Linked DNA regions of Homo sapiens: region 2 is reported to be linked to region 1. The links are microRNA targets in miRTarBase. Many come from high-throughput screens and were not tested one by one. Region 1 holds a microRNA gene; the other region holds the end of a gene's coding sequence.
What was found. Region 1 holds the annotated microRNA hsa-miR-593-5p (AGGCACCAGCCAGGCAUUGCUCAGC, at 1,844-1,868, shown strand). A microRNA usually pairs through its seed, bases 2 to 8, with sites in the 3' UTR of a target mRNA and lowers its output. Matches are read on the target gene's strand: a 7mer-m8 pairs with bases 2 to 8, a 7mer-A1 pairs with bases 2 to 7 and ends in A, and an 8mer does both.

Region 1 (3,000 bases):
GGGATAATACCAAGACCTACTCAAAGGGTTGTTGTAAGGACTAAATGAATTAATATTTGGAGAATGTTTAGAATGGTACCTGGCACCTAATAAGCACAGAAGTTTTGGGCAAATACTTTTAATCATCCTTATTCCTGTGTGCGTCTGTGGGACCCCACGCGTGATCCATTCTCTGCACTCTCCCACCCACCCTTCCTGCTGCTCAGCTGGAAAGCCACCTCCCTCCCCTGCTCTGACAGACCTCACCATTTGGATAATCTCCTGGCTGCAGGATTGGACTTGACACGCTGTCGCGTCAAATCAGCTTCTGAGCCACTGCAGCCCTGACAGCACAGGGCTTTGGGGAAGGAAGGGAGAGAGGGAAGGGTGGAGAGCGCATGGCCCAGCTTCTGGGCTGAGGTCAGAGCAACCTGCTGGAGGTGAGGAGGATGGAGAAAGGGAAAGTTGCTGAGCAGAAGCATTCTTGGTGAGCTCTTCCCCAGCCTAGGGCTGTGGCTTGGACTGCTTCAGGAGCACCAGGAGCCCTGTGACAGCAGGAGGTCCTGCAGAATTCAGAGTGCCCTGCAGAGTGCCACGGGGAAGGGAGATGGGGAGCTGGAGCAAGAGAGGTGCGGGTGTGAGGAGCCCAGAGCCAAAGAGTTCATGAAAGCAGGGCTCTCACACTCGGACGTGCATGAGATAGCCTGGGATCTGGTTTTGCTCTTTTTTACTCTCTGGGATGCTCAGAACAGATTGTAATTTGGTAGGCCTGGGGTAGGATCTGGGGCCTGCATTTTTAATAAATTCCCTTGTTGGTTCTGATGCCTGCCAGAATTTGAGAACTGCTAGATCAGGACTTTAGAGAACTCACCTTTCCCCTCCGAGATAGAGGGCTTCAGGGGCTCAGCCTGGTGTGAATCGAGTGCCCCACAGTCACTCGCCCAGGGCCGATCCCATTTGCCCAAAACCCCTTTCCCAGTGTCTTTTTTTTTTCTTCTTTTTTGAGACGGAGTCTTGCACTGTCGCCCAGGCTGGAGTGCAGTGGCATGATCTTGGCTCACCGCAACCCGTGCCTCCCAGGTTCAAGCGATTCTCCTGCCTCAGCCTCCCAAGTAGCTGGGATTACAGGCGCCCACCACCGCACCCAGCTAATTTTTTGTATTTTTAGTAGAGATAGAGTTTCACCATATTGGCCAGTCTGGTCTTGAACTCCTAACCTCGTGATCCACCCGCCTCGGCCTCCCAAAGTGCTGGGATTACAGGCATGAGCCACCACGCCTGGCCTCCCAGTGTCTTTTATGACTTCACTTCCTCGCCCTCTTCTCACCTCTGCCGACTGAACATGCAGGTCTGGGCCCACTATGAGGAGCAGCCCGTGGAGGAGGTGATGCCAGTGCTGGAGGAGAAGGAGCGATCTGCTAGCTACAAGCCCGTGTTTGTGACTGAGATCACTGATGACCTGCACTTCTACGTGCAGGATGTGGAGACCGGTGAGTGCTCAGGCCGCTGGCTCGTGGTTCCTGGCTTGGTCCAGCTGGCGCTGCCTGGGGGTAGGGGGCCTCTGCCCAGTGGGTGGGAGGAACAATGCCTAGGCAGTCCAGGAGCCTCCCCTGAAGAGCTCACGTTGCCGCCCCTGTCTCCCTGCCTTGTCCCACTGCTCCTCTGGGCTTGGAGTTACTTCAGGAGCCTTCACATGAGCCCTGGCTTGGGCTCAGGCATGGAGGTGCTGCCGGACAGGTCCTCTGGACGCAGGTGAGATAACCAGGTTTATCTGGGTGGAGCTCTGAGTCTCTTAGGTGATTGTTTGTTCCTACATACCCCTGGCTATGCTGGGCAGGATGATTTGTAGCCCCCAGAATCTGTCAGGCACCAGCCAGGCATTGCTCAGCCCGTTTCCCTCTGGGGGAGCAAGGAGTGGTGCTGGGTTTGTCTCTGCTGGGGTTTCTCCTTCTCTAGAGGTTAACATAGCCCTGAGTGATAGCCAGTTTCCATGGAAACAGGCAGCGCTCTAGGGGAAGACATCCCCGGGCAGTCTCTGAAGGACCTTCTCCTCCTTCCGTCCTGAGTGGTGTGCACTGTGGCCAGGGTCCCCTGGGCAGAGACCTGGGGTTTCTGGAGGCCAAAGGGCAGGAGAGAGCTCTGGCAGCCGCTAGCCCGACTACACCTCCAACCGCTTACGCTTTCCACCCTGACCTCCCTTTTCTCATGGCCACCCTGTGCAGGGAAACAGTTGAGTTTGGAGCGGAAGGAAAAGCTCTTAGAGCTGCTTCTGGATCCCAGGAAACAAATCATGGTAGGCACAGGTGGACAGAGGGGGCTAGAAGTGTCAGCAGCACTTGGGCAGTCCCCCAGATGGCAGGACACAGCTCTGCCCAGCCTCCTCAGCCCACCCCAGGTCCGCTCCAGCCCCGTCTCAGCCACTTCCCTCTAATGCTGTTTCCCAGGCAGCTGCCTTTGTGGCAGTGTCATTTCACCAGGAAAAACTTGACCATTCCTGGCCCTGGGCTGGCTGTGCTTGAAAAAGGAAAAACGCAAGGGGGAGGGGTAGAGATGGAGCCCACGAGCCTGCGGGATTAGGTTCTCTTGAGGTCAGCCACAGTCCTGCTGAAAGCTGCTCCAGCAGTTGCCTGAATGAACCGGGGCGGTGGCCAGCCTTTAGGGCTGGGTCATGTGACAGGGAAGGAGTCTTGTAGTGGTGGTCTCAGTGGGAACAAGAGCCGTTCCTGGGCAGAGGAACCAGCTGGAATCCACCACCCCAAAATCCCCGCCAGCCCACCAGAGAACTTGAGCAAAAGGATGCGATCACTCCCAGGCAGGCTCTACTCAGCCTCTGGGTCCTGCTGGGGAGGACCCGCCTTGACTCAGAACAAGCCCCTGAAGTCTTAGAGAGCAGAAATCTGAGGCAGAAAACAAGAGAAAAGAGAAAACCATGTGTCCTTAGAATGCTGGAAGAGAAGGGAGTGAGGCCCTTCCTGGCAGGCCACCTGGGGATTTGTGGTGGGCTCCAGAGAGGAAGGCCCC
Region 2 (3,529 bases), not on the chromosome of region 1:
GATGGGAATTTAGTACATAGAAGTTACACAGTATACCAACCAATGAATCACTTATCTAAGTAACAGGTGAAACATTGCTGATATTTGTGTTTTGAAATATGTGCTTTTCTTAGGTAAAATCAGTTTATTCTACATTTAATATGTGATCCTGTCATTGCATAGTAAATGATTCATTCACAACCTTAATGCAAGTAGCTAAATGTATTGAAATAAGTGTCCTATAAATTTTGTGTGGCATCTAATGCTGACATAATTCAAGGATCTGGGTTAAAGTTTGTGTCGTTGCTGGGTTTTTTAACCTCAAATACTTGGCACTCTGTAGCAGTGTCTCTCACAGTAATGCTTTGTTTCTTAACATGACCGTGAGGACTGCTTGGTCACAGGCAAATACTGTCCTTTATCAGCCAGGACATTCTTAACAATAATTGCCCTTTTTTTCCCCTTCTCACCCCCATCCCAACCCCAACTTAGGTTGGAAAGGCTGGTGGATGTACTGAGGAAGAAGGTTGGAACCGGGACCATGAGGACAGTGATCTGATTGAAAAAAAACGACAGTCTGGGGAAGCGATCACATCTGGTGACCAGGCTGCTTCATTCAACACTGTGTAAACACCAAAGCCTTAACTTAGCAAACAGTTGTTAGAAGTGGGACACTCCAACCACATTCCAAGCTGAGATAAAATCAAATCACAAATGTTTAACCACTTTGCTGCTGACTTGAGTTATTTATCCAAATATATTAACTATAGACTTTTACCAATGGGTAGCTATAAGGTTACAGCTTATTTTGTAACTATTTTATATCTCAATATCTTTAATATAAATCTTTTTACTGAGAGATCATTATAGAAACATGTTAAAGTTGGTTAGGATCATATCTTCACATATGGCCCTTTCTGAATCAAAGTGCGGCAAAGTAAATATTGTCTAAGCTTTAATCCACTGTGTTAGGTCAAAACTTCAAATACATGCATTTTTCAATATAGGGTATATTTCTTAACTGATGAGAGAGGCTTAGACATGAGTGTGTAGTCTTCCTTCAATGCGTGTATGTAATCTTTGTTAGTATAAAAGATATTAAATATAGGTGCCAAGAATTAAATGTATAATTTGTTTAATAAGAGATGGATATATTAAAATTACATTCATCAAGGCATGATTTTTGTTTCACTACAAATAATGCAAACTGTTTTCAATAAAAAGAGGAGACTGTTAATGTGTACTTATAAATTCACATTGTCAGTATTTTTTAATATTGGGTCTGAATAATTATCTGAATTCTACTTAAGCTATAAGTCTCTGTCATTTTTGCTTGAAAATTAGCATGCCTCTGTCTTAAAAGAGACCATCAAACCTATTAAGTATTCTTATTGTTTATCTTTTTTTAATTGCCATTTGATTTTTATTGTGGAGGAGGAGGATCTAATATATAATATTCAATACAATTGTAATGTAGAAATATAAGAATTTAGAAAAAAGTAAACTTGCCATTTGGTTAAGGTTACCTGCTTTTTATTTTATTCCAGAAATAAGATAGTTACAGCATAGCAGTCATATGAAGTTATGAATAGAACTGAGATTTTTATGTAATTAGTTATAGGCAAAATACTTTCATATTTTTAGATTAGACAGACGAAAGACCAAGAGGAAATGACTGTGCCTGGAACAGGATGAAATAGACAAGTAGAGATTTAATTAGCAAAAATTTTGTAGGGAAGTAAAATTTTTTCTAAGTCTATACGTTTTTAATTCATCTTTAAGATTGAGCTAAATTATCTACCATTGCCTATTTACAGGATAAGTACATTCAGGACAATTTATTGTACCATTCTTTCATATACCATAGCAGATTATCCATTTCAATTTTTTTTTACTCCACAGGAAAATGTAAGCTACTTTGTCATAGATCACAAAAGAATCATAATGCTAACAAACTCTATTTCTTCCTTATTAAATCTGTATCCATTAAAGTAACTTTTTTAACTATGAGAATTAGAAAATAAGGGACAACAGGGGTTAAAAATAAACTGATTTAATTTGCTCTATAGTCCTAAAGAGAATTATATCCTCTCATAGACCAATGACTCTATAATAGAGAAATATGTAATGATTTGGTCATGCATGGAGTCTTGTCTCTGGGCTCTATTTGAAACGTGTAACAGCTCCCTATGTGAAGAAACATTATCTTTAAAGTCATCTGGGAGGTGCAGGTAAGTAAAGAGAAACAATTTTTGTCACAAAGTAGTCCATTCCTGATCTCACTTAAAATAAATCACAAGTAAATTTGAATTTTCGGTTTAATGTTGAAAGCAGATGAACTTTTCTTGAGTTATTTTGTCTTTTAGAATACACAAAATATAGTATAAAGACATTTCACAATTTCCAAACAAATCTTTCTACGCTTAAATGATCAAATTAGAAAAACCAATTCCTATAATTAATATGCAGAACTTTTATAGAATATGATATTATAAAGTTAAATTTGCAAAATAATTCTAACATCCACTATTGTTCAGTATAGGTAATCTCCCAAAAATATCACATCCTCTTGAAAATGAATTGTCTACAAAATTTCAAATGCAAAGTATTACAGCCAAATATTATCTTAATTAATTTCTTACACTTAAAAGTGTCCATCAACAGTGTGTCAGATGGTCTTTATATATTTTTTCTGTATGAAGGAATAGCCTTGCCTACTGAAGATAGGTTCTCTATGTATTCAACAATAATGCAACTTTAGAAGTATTCCACACTGCTGAGAAATGTTGCTTTGAGTTTGCTTTACACATCATCAACTCTAAATCCTATAGTAACATGAGAATTCACTTCTTCTTGTAAAAATAAGTAATTTACAGGAAAGGCAAAATGCTAATACTAACATTTGTAGCACTTGATGATTTACAAAGTCCTTTTACATCTGTTTTTTCATTTGATCCTATCGACAATCATAATAATAATAAATTATATATATAACCCATATAATAACGATGGTGATGATAATTTTAGTATTACTGTCATTATAATTATTATTATATTCATTCTACAGATGAGGAAACAGACTCAGTAAGCCTTGGAATTTGCCAAGGACTGGCTAGGACCTAGAACTAAGATCTTATAACCACACTCCATGCAACTATGAGTCTCTAAATCTCTCTGTAAGAAAAAAATTTCAAAGTAAAGATTTTACTCTTGCAATTTCTGTTGTGATAGTACCATCTCTTTCACATACTACATACAAATTCCCTAATAATCAAAAGATTGTACACATTTTTTTCAATGAAGTACAATAATGTGAACTGCATGTGTAAACAGCATCACATTATTACCACCTCTCTATGGTATTATAGTGGCAGTATGCTTTGCCTCAGCCTTCACTAATTAGGAATATTGTGACAATTCATTGCTAATAAAACATAACATGAGTCTCTTTGTACTGTTTTTAATTTGGCCTGATGCTAAAACCTATCAGCTTAGTTTTTTAACATGGTAGTCTAAACTTCAAGGCTTGCTCTATCTCCTAGAGCAATTT

Region 2: the mRNA of MIPOL1 is a reported target of hsa-miR-593-5p. Seed matches in the 3' UTR shown: 7mer-A1 at 1,087-1,093.

The regions. Positions count from the first base shown.
Region 1 is chr7:128,080,033-128,083,032 of GRCh38, forward strand. MIR593 (microRNA 593) reads left to right here and starts at 1,829; the gene lies at 1,829-1,928. SND1 (staphylococcal nuclease and tudor domain containing 1) reads left to right here. Exons shown (of 24, transcript NM_014390.4): 18 at 1,328-1,469.
Region 2 is chr14:37,546,434-37,549,962 of GRCh38, forward strand. MIPOL1 (mirror-image polydactyly 1) reads left to right here. Exons shown (of 13, transcript NM_001388067.1): 13 at 472-3,529. The coding sequence ends at 538. Among named protein-coding and RNA genes, the nearest start is that of FOXA1, 47 kb to the right of the region's middle. RefSeq lists a silencer at 411-705.